5 separate regions of the Homo sapiens genome follow, and all the other regions are reported to be linked to region 4. Evidence: microRNA targets listed by miRTarBase, many of them from high-throughput screens and not tested one by one. Region 4 holds a microRNA gene; each other region holds the end of a gene's coding sequence. Distances are from middle to middle.

Evidence for each region. Region 4 holds the annotated microRNA hsa-miR-331-3p (GCCCCUGGGCCUAUCCUAGAA, at 3,760-3,780, shown strand). A microRNA usually pairs through its seed, bases 2 to 8, with sites in the 3' UTR of a target mRNA and lowers its output. Matches are read on the target gene's strand: a 7mer-m8 pairs with bases 2 to 8, a 7mer-A1 pairs with bases 2 to 7 and ends in A, and an 8mer does both.
Region 1: the mRNA of ANKRD52 is a reported target of hsa-miR-331-3p. Seed matches in the 3' UTR shown: 7mer-m8 at 2,951-2,957 and 7mer-A1 at 6,137-6,143.
Region 2: miRTarBase lists RARS1 as a target of hsa-miR-331-3p. The part of its 3' UTR that is shown has no 7-base or 8-base seed match.
Region 3: the mRNA of NELL2 is a reported target of hsa-miR-331-3p. The part of its 3' UTR that is shown has no 7-base or 8-base seed match.
Region 5: the mRNA of ATF3 is a reported target of hsa-miR-331-3p. The part of its 3' UTR that is shown has no 7-base or 8-base seed match.

What each region holds. Positions count from the first base shown.
Region 1 is chr12:56,238,472-56,244,625 of GRCh38, reverse strand. It overlaps ANKRD52 (ankyrin repeat domain 52), which reads left to right. Exons shown (of 28, transcript NM_173595.4): 25 at 191-273; 26 at 493-575; 27 at 750-841; 28 at 1,234-6,154. The coding sequence ends at 1,484. Among named protein-coding and RNA genes, the nearest start is that of SLC39A5, 11 kb to the right of the region's middle. RefSeq lists enhancers at 59-228, 249-418, 1,351-1,520 and a cis regulatory region at 333.
Region 2 is chr5:168,518,844-168,524,711 of GRCh38, forward strand. RARS1 (arginyl-tRNA synthetase 1) reads left to right here. Exons shown (of 15, transcript NM_002887.4): 15 at 238-458. The coding sequence ends at 347. Among named protein-coding and RNA genes, the nearest start is that of FBLL1, 7.5 kb to the right of the region's middle. RefSeq lists an enhancer at 1,858-2,027.
Region 3 is chr12:44,504,173-44,510,326 of GRCh38, reverse strand. NELL2 (neural EGFL like 2) reads left to right here. Exons shown (of 20, transcript NM_001145108.2): 20 at 1,343-2,049. The coding sequence ends at 1,393. Among named protein-coding and RNA genes, the nearest start is that of NELL2, 370 kb to the left of the region's middle.
Region 4 is chr12:95,304,721-95,310,874 of GRCh38, forward strand. MIR331 (microRNA 331) reads left to right here and starts at 3,700; the gene lies at 3,700-3,793. It overlaps MIR3685 (microRNA 3685), which reads left to right and starts at 5,203; the gene lies at 5,203-5,264.
Region 5 is chr1:212,618,479-212,624,632 of GRCh38, reverse strand. It overlaps ATF3 (activating transcription factor 3), which reads right to left. Exons shown (of 4, transcript NM_001674.4): 4 at 3,858-5,275. The coding sequence ends at 5,078. It overlaps GARIN4 (golgi associated RAB2 interactor family member 4), which reads right to left and starts at 159. Exons shown (of 1, transcript NM_153606.4): 1 at 1-159. RefSeq lists a silencer at 2,712-3,006.

The DNA.
Region 1 (6,154 bases), 39 Mb from region 4:
AGGAGCTCCCCTGGGGCATTTGCAGGATGGGTCAGCCCTGCCTGTGGAGGCTGGCTGGGGCTGGGGTTCAGAAAGCAAGAGGGTTGTCTTTGGATGTCTCGCCATCTGCAGACGGGATGCAAAGTGGAGAGCCAGGATGGCTACTGCTCTGGAGGGAGGGGTCAGTCCCTCTATCACATTTCTCTCGTAGAATTTCTGCTGTATCGAGGGAAGGCAGACCTTACTGTGTTGGATGAGAACAAGAACACGGCCCTCCACTTGGCTTGTAGCAAGGTACTTACCTGAAGTGATTGGGGGACTGCATAAGGGGCAGAGCTTGATGAAGAGAGGTAAGTCTCGGTTGCAGAGGGGACTGGGGCAGAAGTGAGGATTGTCCAGCCTATCCGACTGGTTGGGCAGCTGTTTGTCCTCCTGTTACTCTCCCCAACTCCTGCCCTGCACCCTGCCACATTTCTACTTCACAAGTCTCCACTCTCTGTTCCCCTCCCTCAGGGCCATGAGAAATGTGCCCTCATGATCCTGGCAGAAACCCAAGACCTTGGCCTTATCAATGCTACCAACAGTGCGCTGCAGATGTGAGTGCCTGGGGAAGGGGGCTCCTGGCTGGGGGAGGCCAGTGGGTGATGAAAGAGTGGCCGCTGTTCAGAGGCTCTCTGGAGCCCATTGTATTTGTTCAGCACCCTTGCCACCCTGTCTGGAGGTGGAAGGGCAGCTTAGCATCAAGCTCCTTCTTTTTCCTTTTTTCCAAGGCCACTCCACATTGCTGCCCGGAATGGTCTAGCTTCTGTGGTACAGGCCCTGCTGAGTCATGGGGCCACAGTGCTGGCTGTGGATGAAGAAGGTGGGTGGGGTCTGGGGCCCCATGCCTCTCTTGGGTTTGGGGTCAGGGACATTCTTCAGGAGGTGACTTCTTAATCTTGCTATACATGGGATTTTCTTCCCAAGGGAACTCTTCAGAGCAGGGAGCCCACACCAGTACTCTGGAGTCTCAGAGGGGAGCCTGCAGGGTCAGGAGGACTCCACACCCTAGGCTTTGACTCCCATGCCCGCCCTTTAACCCGTACTTAGAGAATCTGCCTGTCAGCCTTCCTGGGCCCTCGTCACCCTTGGATTCTGCCGCTGCTGGGTACCTGCCTGCCTTGGCTCCCTCCACAGAGAAGAGACTTCAGGGCTTGGGGGAGGCTGGCTAGGATACAGGACTCTATGCCTCAGTTCTCCCCCTTGGCCCTGCAGGTCACACCCCAGCACTGGCCTGTGCCCCCAACAAAGATGTGGCAGACTGCCTGGCCTTGATCCTTTCCACCATGAAGCCTTTCCCACCCAAGGACGCCGTCAGTCCTTTCAGCTTCAGCCTGCTCAAGAACTGCAGCATTGCAGCCGCCAAGACGGTGGGTGGCTGCGGCGCCCTGCCCCATGGGGCCTCCTGCCCCTACAGCCAGGAGCGGCCCGGCGCCATTGGGTTAGATGGCTGCTACTCTGAGTAGCCCCCTCCAGTGTCCCTCCCCCGCCGGTGGCTTGATATCTAATTCTATTTATTTAGAAAAAGTCTAAACATTTAGGGCACTTTAAAGGAGAACACGACTGGGTGGAGGGGGCGGAGGGGAAGGAAGCCCTGGGGAGCAGCTGCTCACCCCTTTGCCACACCATCTTGGCCTGGCAGGGGTCTGGGACTGACAGGGAGCACCCCAGGCCCTTGGTACCCCCAGGGCGACCCCTTCTGCCAAGTGTCCCAAAATGATTGCTAAATGCCTGGCTCCCCCACTCTTTGACTCCATCTCTTGGTTCCCTCTTTCTGCTGCCAGCTCCCCCGACTCTTCCCTGGGGACTCCTCTCTGTGTCCCCCTTCTCCCCTGCCCCTACTGCCAGGCAGATCCCCTCTTCTTCCATACCCATCACTGCCTCCCTGCTCGGCCGGTCCCTCCATCCCCGCAGCAGTGAGAAGCCTTAATTTCTGGTACTGTGTGAGCACTCTGGGGGTGTCCCCCTCCCCCCTTCAGGGGCAGCTAGAGGATGAGGGGGGAGGATATTTAGCACTGGGGCCTGGAGCTTTTTCCCCACTTCTGTACCCTATCACCCCTAAAGTTCAAATGCAAAACACTTGAAGCAGCAACTACTGTACCTGGGCCCCAATCCTGCACTCTCCCCTGGCTCCTCATATGCAAATCAAGGGCTGGTTCTGCCCCCACAGCCTGCCCCCTCCCCATTCCCTCCCACTCCTAGCCTGGCCCCTAACCACGCACTTTAACCTTGCTTCTTTCTTTTATCTTCTTTTGGGAGGGCAGAGCCTGTGGTCATTCCTGCCCTGGCTCTCCTTCCCTTGAACTTTGAGGCTTGTCATGAATTTTTAAGTAAGCGTTTTATCCTTTAGGGGAAGAAACAAATTAATTTCCTGCCCATTTCAAAACCACAGCCCTAGTATGTCCACTGTGTTTCAGGCATGTGTTTGCATGTATATGGAGGGAGGGACCATGTTCTTCCTCCTGTGCCGCCAAGCCCATAGTTTATCTGTGCTCCCTATCTGCCTCCACCTTCCGTTATGTCCAAGAGTACCCACTGCCCCAGTCACTCCTGATCTGAAGCCAAAGATGGTAGGAGGGGCAGGGCCGACAAGGGACCGTGGCTACTCGGGACCCAGGCTTCCCCTCCAGTGTGAGGAAGAAGCTCTGACCTAGAGAGAGATGAATAGGTACTGGGGCTTGGTCCCTGCCTTCCCAGCAGGGAGGAAAGATGGGATTGAGCTGGGGGCTGCACTGATAAGATTTCTAAAGTCGCACCCCAAAAGCCAAACTGGGCTGGAGTGAAGAGGGGGCAGTTTTCTCTCTAAATGTAGCATTGAATTTGGCCCTGGTCCCTTTAAGTGCTCTGTCCACCCATCTCCTAGTGCAGCCTCCTGGACAGTTGGACCCACTCCTGCAGCCCAGTGTTCCCTTCCTCACACTCAATACCTCAGCCAGGGGCCAAGACACAGAACTTGAATAGAGGTCATGCCCCCTCCGCCCCCACACTGCATCCTTGCCCAGTTTGGCTGCCATCAGTATTGTCCCCTGAGAACTGGACAGGCTTCGTTTACACAGTACAGGGTCTCCCCTGAGGGGGGATCCTTCAGCCTCCCTCCCCTACTCAAGTTTGCTTTATTCACAGTCTTACCCATCTTTTAGTTGTATACCCTGAATGTCTTGCCACCCTTGTCAAGGGTGGGCTGAGGGGAGGGGGGCGTCCCAGGGACCCCCTCCCTCCCCAACGGATACCTTTAACCATACCTCATGCTGGTTTCCAGAAGCCTGGGGTGTTGTCCAAGTCCTTATCTTTTCATGGTCCCTTTTGATCCCCTGTCTCTCTGTGTTTTGCTTCTCCCAACCCTCAGTTCCTAAATCATTTCAAGGCTTCCAAATGACCATTATTGATGAGAAGGATTGTGCAGCTTTTAGTTTTTATTTTTATTTTCAAAGCCAAAGGGCCTTGTGACGCCCCTCTTGCCCACCTCCCTCCACACCGTGTCCTCCCCTATATGACAATCAATGTGACCTCTCTTAAGGGCTGCAGCCCCCATCCCCAACCCTGCTGGCTCTGCAAAGCTTGCCTTCCCTTCAATTCTCTCTCCTGAAATCTTCCCATTCCACCCCCTCCCTCTCATCTTGGTGCTGGGAATTAGGTGGTGGGGGGCAAGGGGAGTGAGAAGATGGGTCCTCCAGAGAGAACTTGCCGGGTGTGAGTCGTGTTCTCCTTTCGTGATGTTTGGTGATGGCGGGAAGCGTCTGAGTGTCAGAGCCCCGTTGTCTTGCTAGATGAGATTTCTGGGGGCTGTCTGCGCCCTGCTGCCCTCAGCGCACTGTCAGCAGTGCTGGGAGGTGGTGGGGAGTCCTCTGTCCCTCCATATGTGGCTGTGAGGAAGCCTGGGGGACAAGCAGCCTCCTCTCCTTATGCCAAAGGAAACCCCACGCCCCACCCTGGGCTCCCCAGCCCTAGTGTTTTTTGAAGCATTTTGACCATTCTCATGGCCACTGCATATTTATTTTAATGTTAAGATTTTTTTTAAACCTCTTTGACTTAAACGGGTGTGGAGAAGTAAAACAGGCAGAATGCCCCCCAGTCTTCATGGGGGAGGGCGGGGAGGGAACAGCGCCTTCCCTTTGCCCTCCCCCTCCCCCCTCTCCCCACCGCAGCCCTAAAGCACTTGCTTCAAGTAATAAGCACTTTTGTGAAAAGGCCTATTTTAAGCGAGGACCCTGGGAGCAGCCCCAGGTCCCAGCAAAGGAAACAGAGCGAGGGCGACATAGGAGACAGGGAAACAGACGTGTGAATCAGAGGGTGAGATGGAAAGAGCCAGTTTTTAGTTTCTGATTTTGGGGGAGCTATTTCTGATTGGGCGGTGGCTCTGGTAGGGTCATATACTATCCTTCAGAAAAACGAATGGCACAAACCGTGGGTCCCAGGAAGGACCAGCAGACCCGGGTCACTGCCACTGTCCACTGAGACTGACGGGCCACCTCCCCTGCCCCGTGGCCCCCTGAGCCATAGGACTGCTGAAAACCACTGAATGTACAGCCCAGGTTGGGGTGGGGAGCAGCCCCTGGGGGAGGGGGCTTCTCCTTTTGTTTGGTGCTGTGGGGCGTGGGAGAGAAAAGACTGAGGGACTGCCACCCCACGTAGATGTGTTTCTTGGGGTGGAGGGGCTGAGGAGGGCCTACCTCCCTCTCCAACCCCAGCCATGGCCCCTCTTCCTTCCTCACCCCTATCCGTTTTGACTGTAAGTCCAGCTCACCTTTGCCTTCAATATGTAACCAAAGGAAAACTCAATACTGTTTCCACCACTGTCTGCCCACCCGAGCACCTTCTTACTCCCTGGACCTAGAAGGGGAGAAGAGGCTGGAGGTGGGGTGGATGGGGCCAGAGTGAACGGTTCTACAGCTGTATCCCCAGAACCTCCTCCAGGGTCTTGGAAGGAGTCCTGAGAGGTGGGATTGGGGCCGGGCTGGCAGGGCTGAGTTTGCGCACTGTGTATCTTATGCACATGAGTGTTTTTGTCTAAATGACTCCAGTGACTGCTCCAGCGGGGAGGCCCCTTCCTCCTTCCCTCTCAGCCATTTCTCACCCACTTCCCATACCCAGTGTTCATCCCCTACCTCCCCTTCCCACCGCAAAGGAAAATAGCCTTACAGACCCTAGCCCAGAAACCCTACTCCTGGGGCAAACCAGTATGGGCCCCCATCCCGCCTAGTTTGAACCCTACCTTTTAAGAAGGAGGGATAAGGAACAAAGCAGCCCCTTCCCCTCTAATTGTGGTGGCTCCAGCCTTCTGCAGCCTTGACCCAGGTTGGGCAAGGGCGGAGGTGAGGAATCTTTGAGGACCAAGCCCAGTGGTCTGGGAATCGGGAGGTAGAGAGGGAAGGGTCTGCCTTGGGGGCTCCCTCCTCCCAACCCAACCCCTAGAGAAGCGACCAAATCCCAGAGATGGGGTGAAGCTGGGGTGGGGAGGGTCTGCTCTTTGAATTACTTGAAGGTACTGACTCCAAGGCTGCTGTTGCCCACTTAGGTGTGAGGGGGACACTGTCACTGCATTTGGGAGGGCAGAGGGTGGCGGGTAACCAGAGGATCCACCTTGGCCCTCACCCACTCCTGCTAGGCCCTTTCCCTGGGGAATCTGGAAGCCTGACTTTGCCCCCAGGGAAGTTGGGGACCGCCTTCCCTCCCTTCTCCACCTCTCACTCTGGGCACCCTCTCCAATTGCACTAAAGTAGCTGTTGTGCCAGTCTGCCCCCCACAAGGGGGGAGGTCTCTGCTTCCAGTCTTCTTCCCCCGCTGCCTCCGCTCCCACCCTGGACAATCTCCTTGTTTCCCTTGTGTTCCTGGATAGCTCAGCTTTGTATGTGTGTTTGGGGGGTGGGGGTGGGTTCTGGCTTGAGTGGGTTTGGCAGGGGTTTGGGAAGGGTTAGGGGAGGATGGAGGATGAAGTCTCCTACCCCCTTCTCCAGCTCCAGGCCACAGAAGCCTGGGAAGGGAGGGTGCCTACTCTCGCTGCTGTGTGTCTTGCAGATGTGCCAAAATGGGGGTGGGTGGGAGGGGAGGGTGCCTGGCAGAGCAGCCCCTGGGGTGGCTCTCTCAAAGCAATATAGTTCCCCTGCGGGGGACAGCAAGACAGGGGAGAGGGTTGGGG
Region 2 (5,868 bases), not on the chromosome of region 4:
CATTGCAGACCTTATATCTCTTAATAGTTAAAAACACATTTCTTAACAGAAATGCCTTTATTTTTTAAATTGTTTGTCTTCATAGTTTAAGGTAAAGAAGATTCTAGTTAAAACCCAAAAACATCTGTGGGTTGGACTATGCACTTCTAACTAAAATTTGCAAGTAACATAGATTCTTTAATAATGATTTTCAAAAAGGAAAACAAGTTAATTAACAACTTTTTTCTATCTTTTCAGGAAAAATATTGAAGGTGAACATGTGGCGTATGCTGCTATGTGAAGCAGTAGCTGCTGTCATGGCCAAGGGGTTTGATATCCTGGGAATAAAACCTGTCCAAAGGATGTAATCCTTCATAGGTTTGAACACTGTGTGTTTTTACCAAAGTGGCCATTGGCACTGTTTGCTTTTTTACAATCATGTGGACACAAGCATAAGTAAAGAAAATTTGTCAACCAGGCAAAATGTGGTTCTTTAACAGCTAGAATTCTAAAAAGAAAAAAATCACTTCCACAAATATGCTTATATCTTGCTGAGCATTAAACCAAAATGACTTAGTGGAGGCCATGAAATAACAGGATTTATGCACCACAGTGAGAGTGTATTGACTTTGCAGGAATGTGGTTTATTAATTTTAATTAGATAAGGAATCCCATTTGTTGACCCTGAAAGGGCCCCAAGAATTTACGCCTCTTCATTGTCCCATTCATGTCTCATTTCATTGTTCTGTGAGAGATACTTAGCCTGTTTTACAAGTAACAAAACTTGAGACTGCACAGAGATAAGTAATTTGCCCTGGAATCCTCAGGAACAAAATTAAGATTCACACCCGTGCATGTTTAAAATCCCAAATTCAGGCTATTTCCATTTTAAGAGAAGGTGACATTGGCAATATAACAGACTTGGGTTCGGGGGAAGGGGGCAAGGAAATGTAGACTGGCAATTTTCCTGAAGCTCAAGATTAACTCTTAACATCTCATTGGCCAGATGCCAATCCCAGTTGCAAAGGAAGGTAGAAACCTAGAGTGAATGTCCAAGCTAAGAAGAGGATTGCTGTGATTTCCCTAGACCAGTCACAATTCATCCCCTGGGCAGGGCATATTGTCTCATTTCATGAAATTGGAATCTTTGTAGCAGCACAGAATATGGAGATTGGCAGTGGCAGCGAGAGGTTTTGGGGTACAGCTCCGCACACTGATTATTGAGTCAGCAGTTAATGGAATCTGCCAACACAAAACTGAAATGAGATTCCATGTAAAGCCAACACAATAGAAAAATGAATGTTTAATGAGCATGAATTGTATCATACCATGCTGTTTCTAAAAGTCTCCAAGCTTAGAGGAACCTTAGAGAGGATCTTAATGAGCTATAATAATAGCTTCCATTCACAAACTGGTATGTATAAGTCTAACATGTCCACATTAGATCGCTGCTCCCTCCAACAAACATGGGGAGGCTAAGCAGTTTCCTCTCACTCTACTAACTGCAAAGACAGTTCACCTAGACTACTGAGCCCTTGGGTCCGAAGACTCAGGAGACTTTAGGAATTAAAAACAAGATTCAGCCGGGCATGGTGGCTCACGCCTGTAATGCCAGCACTTTGGGAGGCCGGGGTGGGCAGATCACCTGAGGTTGGGAGTTCGAGACCAGCCTGACCAACATGGGGAAACCCTGTCTCTACTAAAAATACAAAAAATAGCCAGACGTAGTGGCGGGCGCCTGTAATCCCAGCCACTGAGGAGACTGAGGCAAGAGAATTGCTTGAACCCAGGAGTCAGAGGTTGCGATGAGCTGAGATCGCACCATTGCACTCCAGCCTGGGAGACAAAGCAAGACTCCGTCTCAAAAAAAAGAAAAAAGAAAAAACAGGATTCAGTGAGGTGGAGGAGAAAATAATGAAAGACTACAGGAGTATGTTAAATTAACCAAAGGTCATGATAAGTTCGTATACTGGAACATCATCTCGGATACCCCAGGCCATAACTATATCTTTAAAACACTGTCTTACCATAGTTTATAGATATATAAATACCATTTAATAATACAGATAATATCAGAAACCTTTCCTTAGGAATAGTATAGTTCTGATTCTCCTGTTTTTGTTTATAGAGACGAGGTCCTCTTCTGTTTTCCAGGCTGGAGTGCAATGGTGCCATTGTAGTTCACTGTGACTTTTTTTTTTTTTTTTTTTTTTTGAGACAGAGTCTCACTCTGTCACCCAGGCTGGAGTGCAGTGGTGCGATCTCGGCTCACTGCAACCTCCATCTCCCGGGTTCAAACAATTCTCATGCCTCAGCCTCTCAGGTAGCTGGGACTGCAGGCATGCACCACCATACCCTGCTAATTTTTTGTATTTGTAGTAGAGACAGGGTTTCACCATTTTGGCCAGGCTGGTCTCGAACTCCTGACCTCCGGGTGATCTGCCTGGCTCAGCCTCCCAAAGTGCTGGGATTACAGGTGTGAGCCACTGTGCCTGGCCATTCACTGTAACCTTGAACTCATGGGCTCAAGTGATCCTCCTGCCTGAGTCTGTAGTAGCTATGACTACGGTTGTGCTGATTAGCCTGTTTTTAATGTGCTAGCCTTTGGAAAAGCAAAGCCAGTTTGACTTCAGATAATCCTTAATCTCATGTAAGTCGGTGGGCCTTTGTGACCCTCAAATTTGCCTTCATTTGACCTCTAAAAAAAGTCAAAATAATTTTTTATTGGTTAATAGACAAAACACAATTTTTGCCAGGCGTGGTGGCTCACGCCTGTAATCCCAGCACTTTGGGAGGCTGAGGCAGGCGGATCACGAGGTCAAAAGATGAAGACCATCCTGGCCAACGTGATGAAACCCCATCTCTACTAAAAATACAAAAATCAGCTGGGCGTGGTGGCACACACCTGTAGTCCCAGCCACTCGGGTGGCTGAGGCAGGAGGATCGCTTGCTTGAACCCAGGAGATGGAGGTTGCAGTGAGCCGAGACAGCACCACTGCACTCCAGCCTGGGAGACAGAGCAAGACTCCATCTCAAAAAAAAAAAAAAAAAAAAAGAAAGAAAAGGAGAAAAACACAATTTTCAGATGTTCACTCATTTATCCTAACAAATGGGATGATCTTTCTGTGACCTCAAGCTTATTTACTGCATTCTAGGAAATTACAATACTATATATCAATAGCTCTAAACACTATAGATTGCAAGATACTATTGTTTTGCACTACTAAAAAATTTTGACAAACTTTTAAACTGATAGAACTTTCGTAAGTTAGAATTTTCATACTGAAAAGAGTCTTTTAGACTTTTGTTTGTGTCATGTATCACTTATGTACAAACTTAGCACAGGAAAATACAACTGAACTAAATTGGTTAAAATACTCCTAAAACTTCAGAGTCCCACTCTTTTGAGACACTTTTTGATGCAGTCATTAACATCTGTCTTTTCTAGACAATATCATCCTCTATGCTACCAAAAACATTGATGATGCAGCGCTTTGATGTTCCACTATAGTTCCCAGGATTATTATCTGAGTCCTGATATTCATGTGAAGGCGGCGATGACTATGTCACAACCGTCATCTGACTAATAATGACTGTGAGATGCATCGCAATTTCAGAAATGTTCAAATGTACATCCCAAAATTGATTAAACACCATAGTGTGAGGAATGAGGAAAATTAAGTTGGTCAGAAAACGTTTGACTTGGTATGGACCAGTGTCTCCACGTAAATATAAATTCTCCTCATTCCATTCTTTAATTTGCAGGGACCTGTTTGCTGAGCTAAGATCCATTACCTAGGTCTCTACTCAGTGCTTTTCCAAACACAGGGCTGCCTGAAGACTTCCGTCATCCAAAGATAATCTGGTTTGCTGGAATTCAGTTACTCTCCCCAATCCCACCCCCCCCACTGAGAATTCTAGTGCCAGTCCTACCTTCCACTGGCACTTCACAGGGCCAGTGGAATGACATTTAAAGTGCCAAAAGGGGGGGAAACTGTCAATCAAGACCTCTATATTCAGCAAAGCTATTCTTCAGAAAGGAAAATGGTATTAAGATGTTTCTCAATAAACAAAAAGTTTGTCACTAGAAGACCATCGTTACAAGAAATGCTAAATGTTGAAATGTAAGGACCCTAGACTAACAAAATCACACAACACCAGTAAAGGTAAGTACATAGTACAAAATATATTTTAAAAGTGTAAAAGATTATAAAATCAAGTATGTAGAAGTATAAAAATCAATAGTAATGCATTTTTTGTTTTTAACTTTTTTCTTAAAAAGCAACTGCGTATTAATAAACTGAAGAGGGAAATAAATACCCCACATGAACATCTCAATAGATCAGAAACAAAGTTGTCCACTCTTGCCACATCTACCTATTCAAGATGCCTTTAGTCCCAGCTACTCTGGAGGCTAAGGTGGGAGGATTGCTTGAGCCTGGGAGGCAGAGGTCACAGTGAGCCGTGATCATGCCGGTGCACCCTAGCCTGGGTGACAAAAGTGAGTATGCCCAACTAATTTTTGTATTGTAGAGACAGGGTTTCACCACGTTGGCCAGGCTGGTCTTGAACTCCTGACCTCAAGTGATCTGCCCACCTCAGCCTCCCAAAGTGCTGAGATTACAGGCGTGAACCACCACACTGCACCCAGCCCACACTTATTCAAATAAATTTTAAAAGCAGATTTAAACTAGGGCATAAATGGTACAGAGAAGTTAATATGCATCTACAATTTTATGCTAATTTTCTCATCATTTTTGACTTTGCTTCTTGGCCAATGTCAGCCCAAAATGGCCAGTATTAACCTTTCTAGAAAATCGGCTAAATAATATTCAGTTGATGGAGGTAATTATCTTAAGTGCAATGAGCCAGGCACAAACAGGCAAATATCACATGTTCTCACTTATATGTGGGAGCTAAAAAACAATTTTTTTTTTGAGACAGGGTCTAGCTCTGTTGCCCAGGCTGGAGTGCAGTGGCATGATCATCACAGCTCACTGCAACCTCCACCTCTCGGGCTCAAGCGATCCTCCCAGCTCAGCCTCCTGAGTAGCTGGGGCTACAGGCATATGCCACCATGCCTGGTTAATTTTTGTATTTTTGGCAGAGATGGGGTTTTGCCATGTTGCCCAGGCTGGTCTTGAACTCCTGGGCTCAAGTGATCACCTGCTTCAGCCTCCCAAACTGCTGAGATTACAGGCGTGAGCCACCGCACCTGGCTGGAAGCTAAAAAATTTGATCACATGGAGGTAGAGAGTGGAAAAACAGATAACAGAGACTGGGAAGGGTGAATGGGGGCAGGAGGGAAGATGAAGAGAAGTGGGTTAAAAGGTACAAACATACAGGCCTGGTGAGGTGGCTCACACCTGTAATCCCAGCACTTTGGGAGGCTGAGATGGGCAAATCACCTGAGGTCAGGAGTTCGAGACCAGCCTGGACAACATGGCAAAACCCCGTCTCTCCTGAACACACACACACACACACACACACACACACACACACACACACACACACACACACACACACACACACACACAGCCAGGCATGGTGGCATGTGCCTTTAATCCCAGCTACTCGTGGAGCCTGAGGCACAAGAATCACTTGAACTTGGGAGGAGGAGGTTGCAGTGAGCTGAAATCACACCACTGCACTCCAGCCTGGGTGACAGAGGGGGACTCCATCTCAAAAAAAAAAGAGAAAGAAAAAGGTACAAACATACAGTAAGATAGGAGGAACAAATTCAATGCTTGATAGCTGAGCAGGGTGATGATACTTAATAAAAATGTACTGTACTCCCATGATGGATACTTTAAATACCGACTTGATCACTGTGCCTTATACATGTCACAAAACTTCTCATGTACCCCATACATTTGTACAAATCAAAAA
Region 3 (6,154 bases), 51 Mb from region 4:
TTCAGTTTCTGAATCTAAAACGTGTGACTATTAATAGGAATCCAACTGGGAATGCTGTGCGGTTGAAATTAGATAATGTATTTTAAATGCCTGGCAAAGTGTCTGACACAGAGTACACACTTAAGGAATGGAGGGATATTATCATCATCACGGTTTTAAAAACGATATTAACATTATCTATGAGTTAGCTGGTTGAGAAAAGTAAGAGTGCAGGGAATCAAAAGAATAGGATAGAAGGTTTTTCTTCTTTGTACAACACTATATTGTTTTGATACCTTATATCAAAAACTAATTATGCATATCTGGCCCTTCCCTGCCTATTTATCCTATTTCATCACCACAGTTTTCTTCCCTAACTGAAAATTCTTACCCAAAGCTTTTTTTCAGTTTCTTAACTACACAAAACTCTCCTCTGTGCGTTTGGCCACCTTTTCATGCAGTCTCCAGGTCTCGGTTTAAATATCACCTCACAGAACAGTCTACCCTGGACATTGACTAAGTAGCTAGTCTTTTATTAATCTCACACAACCACCTAGTGTATTTCCTTTTGTCTTAGTCAGTTCAGGCTGCTGTAACAGAATACCATAGACTGGGTGGCTTAAACAACGACAATTCATTCCCCACAATTTTGGAGGCTGAGAAATTCATTTCTCACATTCCAAGATCCAGACCCTGGCAGATCTGGTATCTCCAAGGACACACTTCCTGTTTGCAGATGGCCATTTCTCATTGTATCACATGGTAGATAGAGAGAGAGGACGCATGTGTTCTCATCTTTTTGTAAGGGCACTGATCCCATTCATGAGTGCTCTACCCTCATTCACTAATTACCTCTCAAAGGCTTTACCTCCTAATACCATCACACTGGGGATTAGGATTTCAACATGTGGGTTTTAAGAGGATGCAAACATTTAGTTCATAGCACCTTTCTAGCACTTTTCACAATTTTTGATTATATGTTTGCATGGTACTTACTAGTTTTCTCCCTAGATAAACTGCAAACCCTGCTCTGTGAGGTTAGTGACCATGTCTGCTTTATTTATTAATATACTTAGTGCTTACATAGACTTAGTACATATTTTGCAAATAAATGAAAGAACAAATGTGATACAGAGGATGCCAATGAGTAAATAAAGCCAGTTTATGACTTCCCACAAATACAATGGGCATAATAATTGAGTCTGCAATAGTAGAGTCATGAAAAGTGATTGGGCCATTGAATTTTTAGGAATGCAGAAATAAATTATACAGTTTTGTTTGTAAGTACCAATCAATAAATGTGATCATTTACTAATGGCTTAAAAATTCATACTGTTTTTCTTTCTACTTTTTTTAAATCTAGAATGGCCACATCTGTTGCTCAGTGGATCCACAGTGCCTTCAGGAACTGTGAAGTTAACTGTCTCATGGGAGATTTCTGTTAAAAGAATGTTCTTTCATTAAAAGACCAAAAAGAAGTTAAAACTTAAATTGGGTGATTTGTGGGCAGCTAAATGCAGCTTTGTTAATAGCTGAGTGAACTTTCAATTATGAAATTTGTGGAGCTTGACAAAATCACAAAAGGAAAATTACTGGGGCAAAATTAGACCTCAAGTCTGCCTCTACTGTGTCTCACATCACCATGTAGAAGAATGGGCGTACAGTATATACCGTGACATCCTGAACCCTGGATAGAAAGCCTGAGCCCATTGGATCTGTGAAAGCCTCTAGCTTCACTGGTGCAGAAAATTTTCCTCTAGATCAGAATCTTCAAGAATCAGTTAGGTTCCTCACTGCAAGAAATAAAATGTCAGGCAGTGAATGAATTATATTTTCAGAAGTAAAGCAAAGAAGCTATAACATGTTATGTACAGTACACTCTGAAAAGAAATCTGAAACAAGTTATTGTAATGATAAAAATAATGCACAGGCATGGTTACTTAATATTTTCTAACAGGAAAAGTCATCCCTATTTCCTTGTTTTACTGCACTTAATATTATTTGGTTGAATTTGTTCAGTATAAGCTCGTTCTTGTGCAAAATTAAATAAATATTTCTCTTACCTTATAACACATGTGAGTCTGAGTATCTTGTTTAATATGTTCCTCTTTTCCACAGATGATTCTATAAAAATTGCATTCTAGTTCTGCTGATGATAAACTCCTGCTATGTTATTTCTAAATTGAAAGTTGCTATTTCCAAATTTCCAAATTGAAAATGATATGCCTAAGTAAGGGATGTGATGGATAACTTAGTTCTTCCTCTCTAGATCCTCAATTTCACCCTTTCTACCCTGCTGTGCATCCTGGGGTGGCTGACCTATACAGACCCTAATAGTGGGTTCCTTTTCCTCTTGATTCTTGTCTGGTTTCAATTATACTGCAGCAGGAAACACAGCTGGCATATTAGGAAGAGGTCAAGTTTGGATATTTATTCCGCTGGCTCCCTTCCTGCCTGGCCACCGCCATGATTTGGTGTGTCACCTTACTGAAGGTTATATCTCTTGAAAGGTACTCCTCTCTGTCTCACTGCCTCACCAGGTTCTGATAACTTCTACTGTTTGCATCTTCTGGCTTAGGGATATTAACAGCTCTGGCTATTCTGTCCTTGGGAGGTAACTGTTCAATCTTGTTTTCTCTATTTCTAGGCATATCTTTATAAATGGTCCCTTTGTTATACTCTTTAATTAGCCAGCTTGAGTGTGCCATCTGTTTCCTGCCAGGATTCTAACTGATACACATAAGGAGAGCAGTATGTGAGGTTGAGAATGTCTTCAAGAATTGGTCCTTCACGTTTTGATATAAAATTTTTAAAAATATCAATGTTAAAAGATATTATGATATTAATTACATGTTAAATATTTTGATGCACCAGAATGTCAGAGGGGATAAAAGTAAACATCCTGAAACTCAATAAAGGAAGCCAATCCAATATTGCCCTGTTATGTTTTACACTAGGGTGAAAAGGAAATATAAGTATTGTCAAATTAATTTTCGATGCATAGAGGCATTTTTTAAAAAAAAATTAAAATGAACACAAGGTGACCACCGCAAGCTACAGAAATGATAAAGTGGCTTTTAACTGTTCACTCACTATTGCTATGGAAACAACCTAGCACGAGCTGAGTTGAAAGATAATTCAAAAATGTCTTCATAGTTTGGCATGGTAATATTTATTGAATGTGTAAAATCAAGTAGCTATATTCCCTGAATTTATCATAAATGATTTTTCTGTAGCCTTTTTATGTTTAATTTAATTTAATTCAACAGAGCATAAGGTTTATTTTTTGTCAGCTGTATTACAATGGTAAATAGCAATTTAGCTTCCAAGAAGATATCTGTTAATTTGAAGTTTTTTCAAGTTATTTTTTCCTTATATAGCTTTGTGATTTCATATTGAATCCTCCTGAAAAAGTATACTTTACTCATTTTTATAAGAGAGTAAGAAATGTGTGTAGGAAAGTGTGTGTGTGTGTGTGTGTGTGTGTGTATACACCCATATAGATACATATTTGTCATTTAGATATGTCCTTCTGGAAGGAGAAGCAAGGCTGGAATTTTATATTACAAATCCTTTGGAAATCTTTGTAGGGCTCTGGGCATATTGGTGGCTTGCAGATCCTTGGTTTCTATAGGCCGCTGAGTGAAAGAAAACTCATAGTTAAGAAGAAAAGAAGGAAAATACAAGACTATGATAATTCAACGACTATTAAAGCAACACATGAATTCAGATTGAATTTTTTTTTCTTCAAGGTTTACTCCACAAATAGTAGATTCCCCAGGAGAATTACTGTTTCATGTGCAGGCCCTGGGCAAGCAGTAATCAATTGTTTCTTAAGAACTTTGTTCCTTGAAAAAGGGAAGGTTAATACCCCATTTCTCACTCTGATGATAATTGGCAGAATGCCATGGCTGAGTTGTGCCAATATTAAGGGAAAGTGAGAGCTAAGAAGCATGAATTTATTTTGAGGGTGCTTAGCTCCTTTAAGGGCAGGCCTTGGTGAAAATAGTCTTTACTCCATTTTCTTTATTTCCCCTTTTCTGCAAAAAAAAAAAAAAAAAAAAAAAAAAGAATATTTCGCTATGATTCTTTGGTTTAGTAACCTGTATAGTTTATCTCCCTTTTTAAAAGACTGCCATATTGCTTTTTTTGGTTTGCCTTATATAATGGTAAAAAGAGTCATGCATTTGTTCAATTATACTGCAATATCATGGAACCCTTTCATCCTTCCCATAACTTGGTTATCTATAGCCAAAGTTGAAACACCCTGTAAATTGCCTTTACAAAATGAATGGCATATCAAAGCTCTAAAACAGCAGTCAATACTCTTGAGTGTTGGAGTAGCGGAAGTTATTCAGTTGAATAAAACTGAGGTTACATCTACTGAATAAAATATGAGCTTCAGTTCACTAAGCATGACCTCATCTATCAAAGCTCCACATTGCTGACTAGTTAGGACTTCCTCTGAAGGTCGGCACATCCCACAGATACCTGCATGGTCCCAGTCCTGTTGATGTAGGTAGCTTAAGGATTGACAATACCAACTGTTCTTAAAGAAAGACTTTTTATTTTCCATTTTTTCAAATGTAGAGTGTTGTAGCTCAACAGTAAATTGATCTCTTGAGAGAGTCATGCCAAAAGCATCCCTGAAGACAGTAAGTGGATGCTGTGCTCTGTACCCACTTTGTTCACTGTGGTACCTGGACACTCCCTGTCTGCAGTCACCATTGCAGTGGAGTTGGCTCCTTGTGGTCTTACTGACATTTCATTACTGCACAGTTTTCTACCCTAGAATTCAACATTTTCCATAAAGGAGTTGTCACCTCTTTGCAGAATAATTGCCCTTACTTAATAGACCTGCAGGTAGAAAGTCAGGAATTCCTTGGGCTACAGTAGCTCCGGATTGGTGGTGACATAAGTAGGCAAGGAATAGAACTATTGGAGAAGTTTGGAACAGGATAATCTGAGTTGCAGTTTCTTATATTCTCTCTACTTGCCAGGCTGGGACAACTCCCCCATATCTTTTGTCTTTGTATTTGTATTAAATAATTGTTCACAGAGATTGTTTGCATGACAGAGTCTGAAATTTTTATTTATTCCAAATGATGGATGGCACGCTATGTTACTGCCACCACCAATATATTGCATTTAAAACATGACCTCTTATTTATCTCCAATGTTAGGTGTTTTAGAAAAGCAGCCTGAAATAAGAGTATAATTCTATGTAAAAGCAGAAATGATAGTGAGTTTATTTTTGAGGCTTTTTCTCTTTCTTTCACAAAACCACAGCCATAGAGAAAGAAAAGAAAAATAATGAACAAAGTATGTGCAAAGCATAAGCATTCATTTATTGCTGACTCATAAAGTACATGTCCTAATGGAGGAGAAAGAAAATCAACAAATAAATAGATACCATTTCAGGTGGTGATAAGAGCTAGAAGAAAAGTTAAGCTGGCTTGGGATACTGTTGTGGAGAGGGGTGATCATTTAGGTTGGTTGGACAGGAAGTCCTCTCCACAACAAAATAGTATTGGGGCAAATACTTGGATGAGGTGACAGCATGAGCCATTTTCATACCTGGAGCCATTTTCATACCTGGAGGGAAGGAGTTACAAGCAGAGGGAACAGTGTGCACAGGTCTGAGGTGGAAGCACACCTACATGTCTTGAGTGGAATGAGAACGTGGAAACATGTAGAAGATGCTGTCAGAGGAGTGACCAAATCAGGTTCTCCTAGGCCATGGTTAGCGATTTGTGTTTTTATTCTTAGTGACATAGGAGGCATTAGCGAGTTTTGAGCATAGCTGTGCTATAATATGACAGGTAAAATGATCTGTCTTGTTACTATGTGGAGAACAAACAGGTGGGGTTGGGGGAGAAACGAGCGGTGTTGGTGAACATGTACTCAGGAGGCACATTCATACCACAGAATTTCAGACAAGAGAATAATGGTTTGGACTAGGATGGTAATAATGAGAATCAAAAGGATTTAACATGAAAGAATATTCAATTTAATGAAATAATGGGCAGAAAGACAATGTCACAAAAATATCAATTCTCCCCAGTAGTTATAATTTTAAAAATGTTATTTTAAGGTGATTGTAAACTATTATAGAAAAACAAATGTCCAAGAATAGCCAGGAATACTTTGAGAAAAGATTCTATTTGGAGACAGG
Region 4 (6,154 bases):
TGTTCTTAGTACAGTACACAGATTTAAAACTTATGGCACTATAAATGTAACTTCAACTCTGTTCATCAAGACTTATGTTCTAGAAATATTGTTATGAGACTAAAGATGGCTAATTTAGTAAGAACTGGGTAACTTGAATATTTGGGGAATGAGTCATTCTAGATATCCCAGTTTCCTGCAGAGCTTGAACCTCTTTCAGCCCTAAAATTTTTTGGAATAATCTCTGAAGGAAATCTTCATAAAATTGATATGCATTACTGTCTTAAATAATATATGAATGTATTTTAATTTGTTTGGTATCAAAATGATCAGCATTAACATCACTTATTATAATCTGATAGACTAATCAGACATTGAGAGCTGTTTGTCCCTGTACTAAATGGCTCCATTCTGCTGTACTCGTTTTAGTTTTCATGTCTTTAACAGTCGTTCTGATTCTTCCATTTCTATTACTGCTTGCTTAAGTGTGCCTGTAGCAGTAGCCCTTCTCCACCTTCATAATGTGCCTTCTGATCTGCTTTCATTTTGGAGACCAGACAAACTAAGTTTATTAGACTTCTGTGTAAAGTAAGAATAAATAAACTCAAAGTGAAGACTTGAGGAAGTGGATTATGCTTAAATGCATGGATTTTGTGACATCTGTTACTTTACTACCTGTTTCATTGCTATCGTTAAAATAAGTGAAGCTACCGAATTAGATACCTGCTCTCAAAATAGAAAAGTTGTTATGGTACAAAAGGAACTATTTTGTTTACATACTTTACTTTCTCTAAAGTTAGTTCTATACTAGAATTATTTGGCGCTGATTAAAACTGGTCCACTCAAGTTAGCATTTTCTATAGTATTTTCTATTTGAATTGGAGACTACATGCTGTTAAGAATTTCTTTGGCTTTTTTTTTGTTGTTGTTTTGTTTTGTTTGAGACAGAGTCTCACTCTGTTGCCGAGGCTGGAGTGCAGTGGTGCAATCTCGGCTCACTGCAAGGTCCGCCTCCCAAGTTCACGCCATTCTTCTGCCTCAGCCTCCGGAGTAGCTGGGACTACAGGCGCCCGCCACCACTCCGGCTATTTTTTTGTATTTTTAGTAGAGATGGGTTTTCACCGTGTTAGCCAGGATGGTCTCGATCTCCTGACCTTGTGATCTGCCGTCCTTGGCCTCCCAAAGTGCTGGGATTACAGGCATGAGCCACAGCGCCCAGCCGGCTTTTTTTTTTTTTTTTTTTTTTTTTTTAAGAGAGAAATGTATCTTCATTTCCAAGACATGAAAATAGATTAAGCCCTGAAAAATAAGAAAACATTCACTATTAATGTCACAGAGACCTGAGAAGTAATAAAATTTATAGACTATAGGCAATTATACCACAAAGAATTTATTTTTTGATTATGCTAGTTTTAAAAACAGGGTCTTTATTTTTATTCAGCTATAGTAAGCGGACGTTAAAAGCTTACCAAAAGTTATCAGTGTTAGATCTAATGATATTGGCAGATATTTGAATGACTAAATTCCCACTGTCATTCTGTACTGGGCATGATTAAATTGTAATTTAATATTTAATAATTAAGCAGGATCACTTTTCTCTCTTGAATGAAAAATAAAATTTGCACACTATAATATTTACAAGTAAAAGTCAAATCTGTATAGAAATGGATATCCTAGCATCAAACAACTTATTTTTAGCAACATGCTGATTATTTTAGTAACCATATATTGACTCATGTTTTCATTACAAAGTAACTGTCAAATCAGTCTGTTTATTTTATGACCATGCCTCATAGTCGGCATTCAGTTATCCATGCTAATGGAAGGGATCTGTGGTATAATAATCATAAAAGATAAGTGGTCCAGGCTGGGCGCGGTGGCTCACGCCTGTAATCCCAGCACTTTGGGAGGCCGAGGCAGGTGGATCACGAGGTCAGGAGTTCGAGACCAGCCTGACCAACATGGTGAAACCCCGTCTCTACTAAAAATACAAAAATTAGCCGGGCGTGGTGGTGGTACCTGCCTATAATTCTAGCTACTCAGTAGGCTGAGGCAGGAGAATCACTTGAACCCGGGAGGCGGAGGTTACAGTGAGCCGAGATTGCGCCATTGCACTCCAGCCTGGGTGACAGAGTAAGACTTCATCTCAAAAAAAAAAAAAAAAGATAGGTGGTCCAAACCAGTTTCTTGAGTTGAGACTGCCATTATAGAAGAGATAGTCAAGATACCAAAGCCAGGTCAGTGATAAAAGAAGAAAACTTCTGAGTGTAGTTGTGAGAGGAAAGTGATTCTATTCAGTGTAATTGCTGTAAACCAAAAAGAGGATTAATTGATTCAAGGATTCACACATGTAAAAGTTTAGCATGAATAAGGAGGAACTGATTTTATAGATATTCTAAAATGTGTGATAAGCTAGGACGTAGTGGCTCACACCTACAATCCTAGCACTTTGAGAGGCTGAGGCAGGAGGATCTCTTGAGGCCAGGAGTTCAAGACCAGCTTAGGCAAGAAACAGCAAGACTTGGTCTCTACAGAAAAACTTAAAAATTAGCTGGATGTGGTGGCACACACCTGTAGTCCCAGCTGCTCAGTAGGCTGAGGCAGGAGGATCACTTGAGCCCAGGAGGCCACAGCTGCAGTGAGCCATGATTGCACCACTGCACTCCAGCCTGGGCAACAGAACGAGAGACCTTGTCTCAAAAATAAATAAATGAAAATGGGCTGGGCGTGGTGGTTCACACCTGTAATCCCAGCAGTTTGGGAGGCCCAGGTGGGCGGATCACCTGAGGTCGGGAGTTCAAGAACCGCCTGACCAACATGGAGAAACCCCGTCTCTACTAAAAATACAAAATTAGCCGGATATGGTGGTTCATGCCTGTAATCCCAGCTACTCAGGAGGCTGAGGCAGGAGAATCGCTTGAACCTGGGAGTCGGAGGTTTTGGTGAGCCGAGATTGTGCCAATGCACTCCAGCCTGGGCAACAAGAGTGAAACTCTGTCTCAAAAAAAAAAAAAAAAAAAAAAAGAAGGAAAATGAAATGTGTGATAAATTAAAGTGCATATAGTATTTTTTATGGTATATATTTTAATGTATTTTAGCTTGTCAGCAATGAAATTAGTTTTATCTCTATGTATTGAACTTCATTTAGCAACATATTATTGCAATAGTACAGTATTTAAGCTGCATATTCTCTTGACTGCATTATCCTTTAAAATCAGTATATTCTGTGAGATATGGCTATGGATATATATATTTCCTCTCCTATTTATATCCTAAGATTTTCTTAAAGGATAATTTTACTGTTTTAGGCTTTATGTTTTTCAGTTTTATATCATTTCCTAAAGCTTAGCTACCTACAAATGAATATTATTGAAGAATTTTTCTAAAACTAAAGCATGTCTTTTATAAGTTTACTCTTTTATAATATCCTAAACAAAGCATATCCTTTTCCCCTTCCTTAAGTAAATTCTTAAGGAAATTAACTTCATTTCTAAATCAAAGTATTTTCTGCACTTTTATTGCACCAATCTGTTACCTTCTGTTCATACCATGACTTAAATAATGCTTACTCAGGCACAGTACTATCAGCTGACAACGTACAGAAGGCTCCAGAAATGTCACTCCCATCCCTTAAAGGTTGGTATATGGTCCTGGTACAGTCGTGGAGGTCCATATGGGTGAAAAGCCCAGAAGTCTACCTGAGCTGAAAGCACTCCCAAGGAGTTTGGTTTTGTTTGGGTTTGTTCTAGGTATGGTCCCAGGGATCCCAGATCAAACCAGGCCCCTGGGCCTATCCTAGAACCAACCTAAGCTCGCGCATCATTCCTGGAACATCAAGAGTGTGAAGACTGAAGATAACCTGAGGCCTACCAGACATCCTATATTCACCAAGATTCACATTTTTTGGTATGTGTGCCTACATTTTAGCAAAAATTGGTTGGTTAATCCTTCTAAAATTAGAGGGATGACATTGGGTAACAAAGTCTTCCCAGCCTTTGGCATTATAGTAATTTCTCGCAATAGAAATTCCATACAGATATTATTGCCAGTGAAGAGAGCTATTCTTGTTTATTATCAGTTCTATATTTTTAGCTGAAGCAACTTAGCCCTAAAAAACCCCAAAATCAACTTCTTCCTCCAAATTAAACTCTCCCCCAAATTTAATGGTTTCTGTTTTCTTAAATGTTTTTCTACTTGACACTGTTATGTCAGTCTCATGTAACTGAATAATTGTTCATAATTTCTGAAGAGCATTTAGTCTTTGCCATCTGGCTTCAGTGCCAAATGATTTTCAATTCTTGTTTTTGGAGACTAATGACTTTTTCCTTAATTTATTATCAAATTTGCCACATTTTAGAGCTCACTTTTAGAAGTTCTGCTATGGTTAATGAAAACAAGCTAGAATGACACAGTAGAAATTGGTTAATACGTCACATTTTACATCACTATTTTGTAGAAGATTTTTAGTAAGTTTCTCTATTTTTATTCCTTGCCACTCTGGATTTTACAAATATTCTGACCTAGTTGATCCATCACATGGTCTCATATCACAACTGTTGCATCGCTATATTCACATAGATGTTTTTCTGTTTAATTTAGAAGACAGTATTTCTGAAAAAGTATGAAACGACCCCAAATCCAAAAGTTATGGTGCACAATGAAAATGTATGCTTTTAATAATGCTGGCTTCTGCAGTAGGTGTAGACCATGTTTCAAATAACCACAGACTAATCAGAAACTCCACCTGTGAAAGGAACTTGAAATTGTGCTATTCCTCCAAGCTTATAACACCAGCAAATTGGGTCAATAGGTTATTCCTTTAAAATAGGACTATGAGCCTACAGAGGCTCACTCTGAAGAACTCAGCCGTGGAGTTAGTTCTGTACTATATCCATCACAACAGACATGCTTCATCCCATAGACTTCTTGACATAGCTTGAAATGAGTGAACCCATCCTTGATTTATATACATATATGTTCTCAGTATTTTGGGAGCCTTTCCACTTTTTTAAACCTTGTTCATTATGAACACTGAAAATAGGAATTTGTGAAGAGTTAAAAAGTTATAGCTTGTTTACGTAGTAAGTTTTTGAAGTCTACATTCAATCCAGACACTTAGTTGAGTGTTAAACTGTGATTTTTAAAAAATATCATTTGAGAATATTCTTTCAGAGGTATTTTCATTTTTACTTTTTGATTAATTGTGTTTTATATATTAGGGTAGTACATTTCCTACCCTACCTGAAGACTTGAGATTATAGTCTTTGGGGGGATGGGCAAAGTACTCTCTTTTTTTGCATCTTTTAAATTGTGATTTTTAAAAACACATATAAATTTTACTATCTTAACCATTTTTATGTGTATAGTTCAATGAGATTAAGTCCAGTCACATTGGTGTGAAACAGATCTTCAGAATTTTTTCATCTTGCAAATCTGGGACTCTATACCCATTAAACAACTCCCATTTTCCCCTTCCCCACAGCCTTGGCAACCATCATTCTACTTTTCTCTATGAATTTCACTACTTTAGATACCTCATATAAATGGAATCATACAGGATTTGTCCTTTTGTAGCTGACATATTTCACTTAACATAATGTCCTCAAGGTTCATCCATATTGTAGAATGTGATAGGATTTCCTGCCATTTTAAGGCTGAATAATATTCCACTGCATGTATTTACCACATTTTTTTATCCATTCATCTGTTGGTGGACGTTTGGGTTGCCTCCATCTCTTGGCTATTGTGAATAATGCTGCTGTAAACATGAGTGTGCAAATATCTATAATTTTTTAACACAGTACTTTATTTTCGGTATTTAATCATATGGAATTTTTGTCAATTATGTTAAAGGATTTTACAACAACCCAACTATAGATTTATATATATATGTATTATTGTTGTTCCTTCTAAGCTTAAGAAGTCTCTAATAAAATCCATACTTCCTTATATCTTTTTGTGTGTGTACCTTTTTTATTCTGCTCTTTGCCATATGGATTAATACCAAAAGGTAAAAATCCCTTTTCCTTCCTATCTGTTTTTCTTCCATTATAGTATTTTTCAGAATTTGTTAATATGCCAAAAGATGGCAGTTGTCTGGGAAAGCCATTGATTCATTACTCCAAGTTTTGTTTGTTCATTTAAGTGCCTCATATGATAATTTATCACAGTGAAA
Region 5 (6,154 bases), not on the chromosome of region 4:
TCCAAGACGTAGAGATGCAGGGTGGGCTCCAGAGAGGTTTTCTTCTGGACCTAACCCCCTGACCTCCACCTCTGATTTTTTTAATTACAGTTTGTAGTCTCTCTCCCTGAGAGAGACTACAAACTGTAGTCCTAGTGACAGGAAGTGACGACCCTCTCTGCCTAAACCCCCTGTGCAGCCATATTTATCTTCTGCTTCCCTTTGTGACCTGTTGCTGTCACATACCCCTTTGTTCTCATCCCCCAGGCCAGGGCCACAATGCCCTCACTAATACTCCATTGCCCCCATAGAGGACAGCCCCACCGTGCCAGGTACTCAAGTGGGTGCCAAAATAAAAATTTTTCAAATGAGAAAATGTGTGGTTGCTTCCCCTTCCTCACCCCAAATTCAAAAGATTCAGCAACTAGGCAGAGTCTACAGGAACGCAAGATGATGGGATAAATTTGAACCATTTGAGTACACGGTTTAAATTTTTTTTTAACCTAGAATTCGCAGTCTTGGTTCTTAGCCCACTCTTCCATAAAATCTCAGTTCATGCTGACAATGGAAATCTTTAGTAATAACCTCAACCTTTAATAATAACATGAGAGATTGCTTCTTCTAGGCGCCATACTATGTATCAAACTCCATTCCAGTTTGATACTATTGCAACGCTTCTCATCTTACAGGTAAAAAAAACCTGAAGTTGTGAAACATACCTGCATTTGTAGAACTCGTAGGCAGTGGAGGTATTATTTGAATACAGGTCTTGCTGCTTTTAAAATCTTCCTTCTGAACCACTACAGAACTTACAAAAAAAGCTTGGGCAAGCCAAATAAGTTGCATAATTAATTCTGTGTGTGTGTGTGTGTGTGTGTGTGTGTATGCATGCATGTTATGGAGAATCCAGGACAACCACTTCAGAAAGGGGCTGGGCTGAGTGGGGGATTAAATTATCCAAGGGGCCACCTCTATTTCTCCTCCATCATGTTTATACCAACATCCTGTGTCAGGGAGCCCAAATATTTTCTCAAGGCCCCCAGTGTTTGCCCCGTGCCTCTTCTTACCCCCTACCCTGTGAAATGCCGGGAGAAGAGGGTAGGATGGAAAGTGTGAGCTTACATTCCAGGAGCCTATCAAAGGCCCTCCTCTACTAACCTCTCTACTATGCAGAAGTACTTTGGAAGCCATTTACATCCATGGGGAACAGGTGCTACTATACCTCCTGCCTTGCCATGCCCACAGAGCGAGCCCAGGAATAAGTAATTTCCAAGCTGTTACCTGGAAGTCCTGAAAAGGAGCACCTGCTTCCAACTCTCTTTTCTCCCAGCTTGACATCAGGCCTGAAATCCTACCTTAGAGATTCAGTTCTTGAAGATAAAGGCTAGCTGTTTCTTAACATACACACACCTGTCTATCAACTGATGAATGGATAAACAAAAAGTATAGTATCCATACAACAGAATACTATTCAGCCATAAAGAGAAATAAGGTACTATTACATAATACGCTAGGCTGACACTTGAAAACATTATGCTAAGTGAAAGAAGCCAGCCGTATTGTGCGAAAGGCCACATATTGTATGATGCTATTTACATAAAATATCCAGCGCAGGCAAGTCCATAGAAACAGAAGACAGATTAGTGGTTGCCAGAGACTGGAAGGAAGGGGAATGAAGAGTGACTCCTTAATGGGTACAGGATTTCCTTTGGGGACAGTGAAAAAGTTCTGGAACTAGATAGTAATGGTTACACTGCATTGTGAATGTACTTAATGGCACTGAATTGTACACTTCAAAATAGTTACAATGGCAAATTTTTTGTATATCTTACCACGCACACACACACAAATGTATATACTCTTGTTTGAAATCATTGCTGTTGAAAACAAGCATAGGCTTCAGCTTTGGAAAGATCCACTGTGAGACCTCGAGCAAGTTACTGAGCTCTCCACTCCCTCATCTGTAAAATGGGGGTAGCAGTTGTTGTGAGGATTAAATGGGATAATACATGTGAAGTGTTTAGTGTATTGTCCTACGCAATAAATGTTAGCTTCTGTTAGCATTAGTCCTCAACAGTCCTTTTAACCTCAGTGTAAATTCCTCCCTGAAAGCAGTGTTTGATGAGACTGTGTTAAAATCTTCTGGAGTTAGAGCCACCATGAGAACACAGGATGCTCAGTGGGCAAATGGGACCTCCTTTCAGGCAGATTCTAATTGGAAACGCTGTTCACGCCACAAAGAAACAGTACATGAACCCAACCAGAGGTTACGGGACAGGGAAGAGAGGAGAAAGCTTGATATGGGTTGGAGTGTTGAGGGTTTATTCAAAGCCCATGGGGAGAAATTAGGATACAGATGGAAAATAGTATTTTAGTTAACAGAAAGTGGAAAGATTCCATTCCAGAACTCCTGTCCTGGGCCAGAACCCTTTAAAAGCTCTTGACTCTGAAACAGGTGTCAGGCCAGCTCTCAGGGAAAGCCAAAGGGGCAGGTGGAAGGCAAGAGAGAGGAGGGAGGGTGGCTTTCCACACCCTGGCAGTGTGACATCACCACTACCAACAGGAGACAGCTCAGTGCAGACACTGCCAAACCGGGTGCTTGATATTGGTGGTGGCCCCATCTAAGTTTATTCTCTCAGATCCCCCCACCTTCCCTTTCCTCTAAATGTGAAACAAAAGAAACTAAATGCCTTGATGGTAAATGCATAGTCATCATCCTTTTTAAAATTAAAGTATCAAAACATAAACTTGGCTACATAAAACAATTTTTAATGCATTTGTGATAGACCTTCATTTACACTTACCATACACATCAAGTTTTCTTGCCATAGCCACCATCCGCCCCCAACTTCCTTCCTCTCTAATCCATTGTTGTTCCTGGCAGCTTACAAATTGTCTTGCGTTTCATAATGGCTGGTGGCTGGTGCCTCTACCCATAACTAGAAGGTAAATGCAAGGGATGTTTTCCCCTCCACCAAGAAAAGGAACATAAATTATCCCCTGAAAGAAGTGCTGAATGGTATTAACATCAGATGGCTCTTGATGGATTAGGAAAGACCCCTGATGTGCAATTCAGAGAGTAAAATGAAGACACCTGTGTCTTAAGTGATCATTTAAAGGAAACATACATGAGGTCAAAGAAGTAGGCACAGAATTCATGTGTACGAATCTGACATTTAACGAAGACATTCTTCTCTGAAGAATGGCACCAGCGGCGAGTGGCCAGTTTTTATGTCTAGCCTGTGAATGTTATAGAGAAGCACAAAAAGCAAGGGGGCCTGGCTCTCTTGCAGGCCAAAGGAATCATACGCCCTGGAAATTCCAGGAAATTCAGTGGAATGTCTTTCTTTGAATTATCACACCCATGCTGTCTAAAATGGTTCTTTCTTCCTCCGGTACCCCTTCCCATTCTTTTCTGATATGTATTTGCAACAATGAGACACACGTTTAGACATGAAACAGATGTAACTCAAGTGAGTAACTCTCTGAGACGAGTTCTGTGGCAGAATGTTAGGGGTCAAAGGTTCAAGCTGAACAACAGGTGTATGTTTTAGGTGTTTGTACATTCAGAGAAAATAATTAAGGTATCTAGCAATTCAGTTGTACATCAAAATTCTAAACACCAAACTGTTGATCTAAAGGATATATTTGGTGCCATGTTTCAGGGTTTGTCAATGAAAAATTGAGCATCAGGTGCCCAAGACTGAGGAACAGGACTGAAAGCCAACTATCCCATCTAGTGATGCCCCAAAGAGCAAAGGATGACATCTGGAGAAGTTTAAAGCTAGGCACCCCCCATAATGGGGAGGGAAAGGCAGGGAATCGCTAGGTCTCAGCAACCGACAGATTTAAATGAACAGAAACCAGCACAACACATGTTTACCATGTCTTGGTTCCAATATTTATTATTCTGACAGGTTAGGAATACTAGGATAAATAAGTAATATTTTCTCTTACAGAAAATTGTAATGATACCATTGAGTACAATTAAACACTCTGAGAATTTCACAGAAACATCAGAATTTTAATAGACAGTAGCCAGCGTCCTTGTGGCCAGTGTGAGTGACTTCTCACAGCTGCAAACACCCTGGGCCAGATTTCTTAAAACAGCTACATGACAAAAACAATGCTATTGACATCCAATAATGCTAAAGCCTGGGTACCACCCAGGCTCCACTGACTGTGGTTTCCAAACATCTCTCCACTGACTGTGGTTTTCAACCACAAGGAAAGGAAAATGGAATATTCTTTGGCTCTTCCAGCCTAGACACAACTCCTGACCTAAGACATTGAGTGGAGAGTCCTAACCCTTTGGAAGTTGAACTTTCTGCTTTCTTCCTGTGACTTTGGAACTGAGTTTGCAACAGAGGACCTGCCATCATACTGCCCATGGATTTTGTGTTAACGCTGGGAGAATTCTGTCCTCCTCTTGCTGACAAGCTCTTCTGGCCACCTGAATATCTTGAGATACTGCACGTGGTGACAGCCCCGCCCCCCAAAACTCTTAGAAACCAGATCTGAGAAAAAGCATATAAAAGTCACATCAGTGTTGTGTGACACAAACATCGGAAGAGTACATTGCCTAGTTTTCTTGCACACACAATTTCTGGACATAACAGCATATTTGCTAGAAAGCACAACCCTGGCCGTTGCACAACTTCACTAAATGCTGTTCTCACTCCACATCCCCTACGAGTGACAATGGTAGCCACGGTGAAGGAGATGGCCCCATCCCTCCCACCCGAGGTACAGACACTGCTGCCTGAATCCTAACGGTGGGCATCCTGGTTTTTTGTAGAATCCAGATGAAAGGCGGGCAGGACACCAGCTGGGGGCCATCTGGAACATAAGAATGGCCAGTGTGTTAAGGCCTAAATCCTGGAGTTGAGGCAAAGATGCACTTGCCCTGGTCCAAGACCCACTCTGGGGCAGAATGGGAAGGGCCTGCTGAATCACTGCAGGCCCTCCCGCCTTGATGGTTCTCTGCTGCTGGGATTCTAGAGGTACACAGGAAGACAGCTCTCCAATGGCTTCAGGGTTTTGGGTATAAAATGAGGATTCAATGAGGACTCCCCAGTCGCCCCCATACCACGACTGCTTAGCTCTGCAATGTTCCTTCTTTTATCTGTTGGATAAAGAGGTTTCTCTCATCTTCTGGAGTCCTCCCATTCTGAGCCCGGACAATACACGTGGGCCGATGAAGGTTGAGCATGTATATCAAATGCTGCTTCTCGTTCTTGAGCTCCTCAATCTGAGCCTTCAGTTCAGCATTCACACTTTCCAGCTTCTCCGACTCCTGGGGGACAAGCAACAGAGGCATCAAGAAAGGAGCCAAGGGCCAGTGAGGAGGGGGTGGCCTGGGCTGCTGCCTGGATGCAGGGGTGTACCTGGGACACACCGGGGCTCATCAAGCTGCGAGAGGAAGATGGGAGATGGGAGAGCAGCACTGGGTTTAGGAAAATGCAGACCCTCTTCTTCAGAGAAACCCTGGTGATGCCACAGAGGCGGCCTGTGGCTCTGCTAATACTGAAGCTGCAGTTCAGATACCTCATTTGCATGAGTCAACAGCCCATATGCAGGTCTTCTGGACCCAAAAGGGCCTTGGGAGCTGGGGAGAAATCCAGACTTATGGTGGCTTAGTCGATTCTGAGTCACAGATCTCAATGAGAAGCTCATCTCCCCAGAAAAAATGTATATAGCAACACACAAAATTCCCTAATTTTCACTGATCCCCTGAAGCAATCAACAGAACTTTTGGGGATCTGTGGGACTTGGGCTAAGACTCTGTCATGGCCTGTCCACATTTGGAGGAGGGACACAGCCACTGGAAAGACTGCTGAGCACCACCGGCCACCCTGCTTGCCCACAAAAGCTATTTCCCCTAGTGTCTCTCAGGCGGGCCGGCTGAACGCAGCCAGGGGCTCAGCTTACTGGCTAAGCCAGGGAGAAGGGCTCTAGAGTTAGGAACCAGACAAGAATGCAAAGCAAGTGTAACCACTGCTTGTGGATTAAGGAAATAACTTGTTTGAAGAGATTAATTAAAGGCTTTTCATAGTGAGCCAAATGAGAGCTGGCAGCTTCCTTTTCTCAGGAAAACAGTCAAGTGAAGCCTCTTTAACTGGGCTGGCATGTCCTGCAGCCTGGAAGCTGATGGACATGTATGAACCGGCCGAGG